Linked DNA regions of Homo sapiens. The gene in region 2 interacts genetically with the main gene of each other region. Each region holds a gene or a part of one and is shown on either strand. Other genes may lie near its edges.

Region 1 (3,649 bases), on a different chromosome or scaffold from region 2:
TCTACCTCATTTCAATCTGTTCCAAGGTTCACTGCCACTGCCCCATCCCTTCTATTTCTTTCTTTCTATATCCTCCTATAATTCAAGGATTAACTGAAATCTAACTACTGTAGGGCCCAGGCTCTGGTTCCAGACTTCCTTAGGTCAAATTACTACACTTAACAGCTGTGTTACCTTGGACAAGTTACCCTCTCTGTCTCAATTTCCTTATCTATAAAATAAAGAAAATCCTAGTAATTTACCTCAAAAAGTTGCTCTGAGGATTTGTTACTAGTTCTTAATACATAGTAATATATGCAATTTTAATTATTTTAATCCATACTAATTCTTTAAACAGTGGTTGTACAATTTATCACTGTTTTTTGTTATCCATTATTCTCTGATGTTCTTTTCAATGTGAATCTTTACTTAAAAATTTGATTACTTTGAGAAGAATGTGTATTCTGAAAAATAAAAAAATATTTGGTTACAAACTATTGAAGGCAAAGACTGTATTATACTTCTTTTTGAAAGTCTCTTAAACCAAGGCTGGGTACAGTGGTTCATGCCTGTGATTCAGCACTTTGGGAGGCTGAGGCAGGCAAATTGCCTGAGCTGAGGAGTTTGAGACCAGCCTTGGCAACATTGCAAAACCCTGTCTCTACAAAAAATACAAAAAATTAGCTGTGCATGGTGGTGCACACATGTGGTCCCAGCTACTCAAGAGGCTGAGGCGGGAGGATTGCTTGAGCCTGGCAGGTGGAGGTTGCAGTCAGCTGAGATGGTATCACTGCCCTCCAACCTGGGTGACATAGTGAGACCCCCCTCTCAAAAAAAAAAAGTGTCTCAGACCTCTCAGGATGATTTGGGGGCTCAGTGTAATATTTTTTTCTTCCCATCTTACTATCTAGTTTTCTTTTTCTTTTTTGTTTTTTATTGTACTTTTGTAGCTTAGAGTTTTAAATTTAAACTCAATTTTGTTCCAAAAGTATTTGAGGTAGCTTAAACTATATAATATATAATAACATACAAAATAAAGAGAATCAAGATCATAAAAATATGAAGCTTGAATAGAAAGATGTGATTAGGGTGAGTTATACTGAAAATATACTGTGAATGTTGTAGAGTTATTTATTTATTTATTTATTTTATCTTTTTTTTTTTTTGAGATGGAGTCTCACTCTGTCGCCCAGGCTGGAGTGCAGTGGCGTGATCTCGGCTCACTGCAGGCTCCGGCCCCCGAGTTCACGCCATTCTCCTGCCTCAGCCTCCCGAGTAGCTGGGAGTACAGGCGCCCGCCACCTTGCCCGGCTAATTTTTTTTTTTTTTTGTATTTTTAGTAGAGACGGGGTTTCACCGTGTTAGCCAAGATGGTCTCGATCTCCTGACCTCGTGATCCGCCCGCCTCGGCCTCCCAAAGTGCTGGGATTACAGGCGTGAGCCACTGCGCCCGGCCTGTTGTACAGTTATTAAAGGTAGGCCACAAAGTTCCAAGCTTCATGGTGGTCAAAGGAAAGAAGGAAACATATTTATTGCCCAGCAAAAACAGCTTCCTGTGTTAAAATAATTAATTGGGAGGCCATTGCCTGAGGAAGCTCCAGTGCCCTGGGTTCCTACATAAACAGACTTACACCAAACTCAGTGTAAATGGTTGTATTCTAGGAAAATGAAACTTTAGCTTAACCAATCAGAAACCATCAACTAACCTCTAACCACTGACTTTTACTGGAATGATCCAAGTAAGGCTACTCCACTTTGACCAATCACAGATTTTCTTGGCCTTGCTTCTGCCGTTCACTCTTCAAAAGCCTTCTAACTGTGTCCTTTTGGTGCAGCCCCATATTGCTTGCATTCTGGAGCTGACCAATTCATTAATATGCCTAGTGTTCCATTATTGGAACGCTAAGCTTGTGGGAGTTATTTATATCCTGCTCATGGTCATCGCCAAGGTCTGATTTTTCACAAAAAAAATTTGCAACCTCCAGCATAAATGGGTTAACCATTGTCTGCTTAAATAAACATTTTCTTGTTTTTGTTTTTTGAGACAGTATCTTGTTGTGTCGCCCAGGCTGGAGGGCAGTAGTGCAGTTATGGCTCACTGCAGCCTCAATTTCCTGGGCTCCAGCTATCCTCCCACCTCAGCCTCCCAAGTAGCTGGGACTACAGGCATGCACCACTATGCCAGGCTAATTTTTGTATTTTTTTGTAGAGGCGGGATCTCACCATTTGCCCAGGCTGGTCTTGAATTCCTGAGCTCAGGCAATCCACCTGCCTTGTCCTCCCGAAGTGCTAGGATTACTTTGCCTGACCTCAAATAAATCCTTTAAAATTTTAATGTGCCTTGGTTTATCTTTTAGCACCTAGTAAATATTTAGTGAGTGAAATGGAGATTGTGATCACAGATTTTAAAGGATACGCTGAGGCCCTAGAGTTAAATTCTCTAGACTTTGTTAATTCCTTACCTACTTCCCAGTATTTCTCAAAGGGAGCTCTACTGGCATTTTTACAGACAACTCTTCACTGTGTGGGATTGTCCTGTACATTGTAGGATGTTTATTTTACCTGGTCCCTCAGCACTAAATGGCAATGGCAAACTCTAACTTCTTTTTAACAATCCAATATGATCCCATTTATTTCCAAGCAGCCCCTTGAAGAGCGGGTTCCCCATAAAGTTGGGAACCATTAGACCTTATTTGCCCATACTCTTCTCCACCCGAGCTATGCTCCATCCACTGACATTTGTTTTATTTTTAAACCTTGCATTCTTTTCAGACCCTGTCTTTGCAGGAGCTCCTCAATCTTTTTGGAGTGACTTTGTCTCCACCTGGTTGGCCCTTACTCAAATTTCAAAATTCATTTCTTCAAGAATTGAATTCATGTGTTCAGAACTCCAAGTTTTGGAGTCTTCCCCAGTTTTGCCAGGAAGTTTGACATTCTTTTCTAGGAGGACACTCACAGCAAGCACTAGGGTATTGTAGGTACTGAGTGAATGAATGAAAAACTTGTGGAAATAGAAGGCACATTAGTCTCATCTCTGAACAAAGACTTTTGCAAGAAGAAAAATTTAAAGGGAATGTGCCTTTCATTACAAAAATGTCCAACCATTTCCTTTTTTTATTTTCCAAAATAAAAATATGGCACTTGGTAGTATATTTTAAAGACACTTTGCTCTGTAATCTGTATTCAGACTGGCACTGATTCTGTAGCTTCTGATATTGTGTTGGTCTTTTTTTTTGAGGCGGAGTCTTGCTCTGTCGCCCAAGCTGGAGTGCAATGGCATGATCTCAGCTCATTGCAACCTCTGCCTCCCAGGTTCATGCAATTCTCCTGCCTCAGCCTCCCAAGTAGCTGGGATTACATGTGCCCGCCACCACGCCCAGCTAATTTTAGTATTTTTAGTAGAGATGGGGTTTCACCATGTTGGTCAGGCTGGTCTCAAACTCCTGACCTCAGGTGATCCATCCACCTTGGCCTCCCAAAATGCTGGGATTACAGGCATGAGCCACTGCTCCTTTCTGTCTCTTCTTATTTTTTGGATACTTTTGGCCAAGGATACCCCATTATCTCCTTATTTCCTAATTCTGGATACTTGGCATATGTGCTGACTAGAGTTTGTTGTACTAGTCCTACTACCCACTGTTCAAAGGCAGCAAGAGAGTTTGAGCTGTGG
Region 2 (4,683 bases):
TGCAGTGGCGCCATCTCAGCTCACTGCAAGCTCCACCTCCCGGGTTCACGCCGTTCTCCTGCCTCAGCCTCCCGAGTAGCTGGGACTACAGGTGCCCACCACCACGCCCAGCTAATTTTTTTGTATTTTTAGTAGAGACGGGGTTTTATCGTGTTAGCCAGGATGGTCTTGATCTCCTGAACTCGTGATCCGCCTGTCTCGGCCTCCCAAAGTGCTGGGATTACAGGCGTGAGCCACCGTGCCTGGCCGCAAATGTCTTATTTCTAATTGCTATCAGATCTGGTACCAAAGGAGAATTTGGAGAGCTGGCTAAATTATTTGAAGAAAGAATTGCCAACAGTGGTGTTCAGAGCCTCAACAAAACCAAAGGATAAAGGGAAGATAACCAAGGTATCCTTTATTAGTGGTAAGAAATGTGATTCTTTCAGATTTTGGTTGAAATATGATGAGTGTACAAAATCTTGATTTAAGTGAATGAAAAATTACAAGATCCAACTCTGATTTCAGCCAGAGATCATCTGAAAGGCAATGTAGTTATCTTAAGAGCTGGGCTCTGGAGCCTGATTGCTTGGGGTTTGTTGAAATTTATCAGGTAAGTTGCCAGAATAATTCAACTATTTGGAATTTTAGCGTGTGAAGGCAAAGAAGAATGCTGCTCCATTCAGAAGTGAAGTCTGCTTTGGGAAAGAGGGCCTTTGGAAACTTCTTGGAGGTTTTCAGGAAACTTGCAGCAAAGCCATTCGGGTTGGAGTAATTGGTGAGTTTCAGTTCATTACTTTTTACTTTTTAAGTGTTGAAATAGTTAAGAAGTTTAGCCAGCTCTCCAAGTGCCCAAGCAGCAGTGTATGGAGTTGTTGTCAAGTAAAAGGCTCACTCAAATACTAGCTTCTTGCTTATACCTTACTGAAAGCACATAACCACACACAATTTAAAGAAAAAAACTTACACAACTGCTGCCAGATTCAGGTTTTTTGTTGGGACTGATTACTGTAGGAAGCTGGTTTCTAAAAGTTCTTGGTTTGTTTGAATTTATAGTATTTTCCTGCCTTTGCATTACTTGTGCAAGAAATGAAGAAACTAAAATTGGTCTTAGTATTGAAGTGAAGACACTGAGATCCAACTCTGATCTTGCCCTAAACATCAGGGAAATGGAAAATTAGGCAGTGAAAATTTCATAAGTGCCAACATATAATGCTTTTTATATCTGGATTTCCCATTTATTTGTAGGTTTCCCAAATGTGGGGAAAAGCAGCATTATCAATAGCTTAAAACAAGAACAGATGTGTAATGTTGGTGTATCCATGGGGCTTACAAGGTAAATGGAGGTGTCCATAATTGTAATATTATAGTGACACACTATTTTATTTTGGTTATCTCAAGGAAGGTGATTTTTTTTTTTTTTTTTTTTGAGACAGTTTCACTCTTGTTCCCAGGCTGGAGGGCAATGGCGCAATCTCGGCTCACTGCAACCTCCACCTCTCAGGTTCAAGTGATTCTCCTGCCTCAGCCTCCAGAGTAGCTGGGATTACAGGCATGTGCCCCCACGCCCGGCTAATTTTGTATTTTTAATAGAGACGGGTTTCTCCATGTTGGTTAGGCTGGTCTCAAACTCCTGACTTCAGCTGATCTGCCCGCCTCGGCCTCCCAAAGTGCTGGGGTTACAGGCCAAGCCACCGCGCCCGGCCTATTTTTATTTTTTAAAGCTTTTGGTGAAAGCAGAGATTTAAGCCAGTGCTAGAACTGATTGGAGTGGGACAGCTGCCCACAATTTAGTTTGAAAGACAAGTTCAGCAGATAGATTGAGAGAGAGGAAAGCTCCCTCAGAGGAAGTGATGTTTGAACCTGGCCTTGAGAAATTAATAGAAATTTGCCAGATAGAAGTCTGCCACCACACCTGGCTAGTTTTTGTATTTTTAATAGAGATGGGGTTTCACTGTTGGCCAGGCTAGCCTCAAACTCCTGGCCTTAAGTCATCCACCCGCCTAGGCCTCACAAAGTGTTGGGATTACACTTGTGTTGGGTGGCATGAGCCACTGTGCCTGGCCAACTTTTAGATTTTTTTTTTTTGGGAGATGGAGTCTGTCTCCCAGGCTGGAGTACAGTGGTGCTATCTTGGCTCACTGCAACCTCAGCCTCCTGAGTAGCTGGGATCAAAGGCACCCGGCTAATTTTTGTATTTTTAGTAGAGACAGGGCTTTCATCATGTTGGCCAGGCTGGTCTCAAACTCCTGACCTCAGGTGATCCACCCACCTCGGCCTCCCAAAGTGCTGGGATTACAGGCGTGAGCCACCGCGCCCAGCCAGAAGGTGGCATATTTATAGCAAAGGAAATAGCATGTGTTTTGGTTGATGTAAATATATAAGCTATAACATGTAGTGTTCTCTTTAGAACAGTCGGGTATGCTGTTACAGTTTTAGATAAATGTGAAGCAAATGATGATAAACTGGATCTGACTGACTGTGCTGAGTCTGTTCAATCCAACCCTGAGCTTCATGTTCTGTCTCTTAACCTCCAAATAGACCAATGCCCCCATCAATTCCATCGCTCTTCTTTCAGGAGCATGCAAGTTGTCCCCTTGGACAAACAGATCACAATCATAGATAGTCCGAGCTTCATCGTATCTCCACTTAATTCCTCCTCTGCGCTTGCTCTGCGAAGTCCAGCAAGTATTGAAGTAGTAAAACCGATGGAGGCTGCCAGTGCCATCCTTTCCCAGGCTGATGCTCGACAGGTAAAAGGACCCCTTCTCATGAGCTCCTTGGAGCCATCTTCTTTCATCATAAGCATTTTGAGTAGAAAAATCTTGGAAGTGTTTTAAAGTACTGGCATGTCAGATGAAGGACAGCTCCTTTGTTTGGTTTTTTTTTTAAGGTAGTACTGAAATATACTGTCCCAGGCTACAGGAATTCTCTGGAATTTTTTACTGTGCTTGCTCAGAGAAGAGGTATGCACCAAAAAGGTGGAATCCCAAATGTTGAAGGTGCTGCCAAACTGCTGTGGTCTGAGTGGACAGGGTAAGCTTTCTTTTCTGTTGGCATTTTGGTGACCACTAGAATAAACCTTCTTTTGACACATCTTATTTTTAATATCAGTGCCTCATTAGCTTACTATTGCCATCCCCCTACATCTTGGACTCCTCCTCCATATTTTAATGAGAGTATTGTGGTAGACATGAAAAGCGGCTTCAATCTGGAAGAACTGGAAAAGAACAATGCACAGAGCATAAGAGGTGAGAATTGTGTGTCGCTGCTGTCTTCATCAGCTGACAGGCCAGTGGAGCTCTTACCTGTTTACATGGGCTTGCTTTCTTTCCCAGCCATCAAGGGCCCTCATTTGGCCAATAGCATCCTTTTCCAGTCTTCCGGTCTGACAAATGGAATAATAGAAGAAAAGGACATACATGAAGAATTGCCAAAACGGAAAGAAAGGAAGCAGGAGGAGAGGGAGGATGACAAAGACAGTGACCAGGAAACTGTTGATGAAGAAGTTGATGTAAGTGTGTCCTCCATGAGTTAAAACTGAAGTGAGTTTTCTAGCATTATAATACATAATGGAAGGAACTGAAGATAGGAAATATTTGAGGCTTGTGATCCATTAGCCTTAATTTTGCACATCCCGTTATATGTACCTCCAAAGAGTTAATTTTTCAGGTACATAACTACTTGGATTAAATGAGCAGACAAGGGCTACTAATCCAGCACTATTTTTCTTTGTCACACAGGAAAACAGCTCAGGCATGTTTGCTGCAGAAGAGACAGGGGAGGCACTGTCTGAGGAGACTACAGCAGGTGAGGCAGGCAAAAGGGGTTCTAACGAAGCAGCATGGTATAGAATCACTTTTACTTTTTGAAAATCTCTTTATTTTCCTGCAATATAGGTGAACAGTCTACAAGGTCTTTTATCTTGGATAAAATCATTGAAGAGGATGATGCTTATGACTTCAGTACAGATTATGTGTAACAGAACAATGGCTTTTTATGATTTTTTTTTTAACATTTTAAGCAGACTGCTAAACTGTTCTCTGTATAAGTTATGGTATGCATGAGCTGTGTAAATTTTGTGAATATGTATTATATTAAAACCAGGCAACTTGGAATCCCTAAATTCTGTAAAAAGACAATTCATCTCATTGTGAGTGGAAGTAGTTATCTGGAATAAAAAAAGAAGATACCTATTGAAAAATGTAAGTTTTATTTACAGATCAGGCCACAGGTTACAAAATTAAAACCAACAGCAGTTTTGAATTATCTGTACCAGCTAGCTGAACTAGCCATATCAGTTCTTCTTTCCAGTCATTCAGCATTGTAGTAAGAAAACACTTGGTAAGGCAGATGGAGACATATTTATAGTCTATAGTCTGTCTGGGAAGCTGACTGCCAGACAGGGCAGTTTGTCATCTTTACCTAGCTGACACATCTTTTTCCATGGCTTGCTACCGATAGGCATTGAAGCCTAGCAACTGTTACTTCCCACGCATGCTATCTTCCAGGACTTCCTGAGAAATGCTTGCTTACAGTTCAAATTCTGTTTCACTTTATGTTTGAGATCTCGGTATATCTTCGGATTAGGTTGAATTTGCCTGTTGGGTCTGGAATATACCATTTTTCCCAAACATCAGTATATGAAGCAGTCCTTCCCCATGGCTTCAAATGTCCATTCCAATGGAGTAACTTGGCAGCCTT

What was found. Genes that interact genetically often act in the same process or in processes that back each other up.
Region 1: of GNL3 (region 2) and ATG10, changing one suppresses a phenotype caused by changing the other (phenotypic suppression), as found in Homo sapiens cells (one large-scale study listed by BioGRID).

Annotation. Positions count from the first base shown.
Region 1 is NC_000005.10:81,974,874-81,978,522, forward strand, and holds part of ATG10 (ubiquitin-like-conjugating enzyme ATG10), read left to right. Parts: intron 1-1,319; exon of another isoform or gene 1,320-1,454; intron 1,455-3,455; exon of another isoform or gene 3,456-3,649. UniProt on the Homo sapiens protein: E2-like enzyme involved in autophagy. Acts as an E2-like enzyme that catalyzes the conjugation of ATG12 to ATG5. ATG12 conjugation to ATG5 is required for autophagy. Likely serves as an ATG5-recognition molecule. Not involved in ATG12 conjugation to ATG3.
Region 2 is NC_000003.12:52,690,315-52,694,997, forward strand, and holds the end of GNL3 (guanine nucleotide-binding protein-like 3), read left to right. Parts: intron 1-277; coding exon 278-390; intron 391-423; exon of another isoform or gene 424-516; intron 517-630; coding exon 631-757; intron 758-1,063; exon of another isoform or gene 1,064-1,130; intron 1,131-1,227; coding exon 1,228-1,315; intron 1,316-2,421; exon of another isoform or gene 2,422-2,498; intron 2,499-2,557; coding exon 2,558-2,732; intron 2,733-2,872; coding exon 2,873-3,015; intron 3,016-3,093; coding exon 3,094-3,230; intron 3,231-3,317; coding exon 3,318-3,493; intron 3,494-3,722; coding exon 3,723-3,789; intron 3,790-3,878; coding exon 3,879-3,961; 3' UTR 3,962-4,183; downstream 4,184-4,683. Other genes in the region: GLT8D1 (glycosyltransferase 8 domain-containing protein 1), read right to left, coding at 4,531-4,683. UniProt on the Homo sapiens protein: May be required to maintain the proliferative capacity of stem cells. Stabilizes MDM2 by preventing its ubiquitination, and hence proteasomal degradation.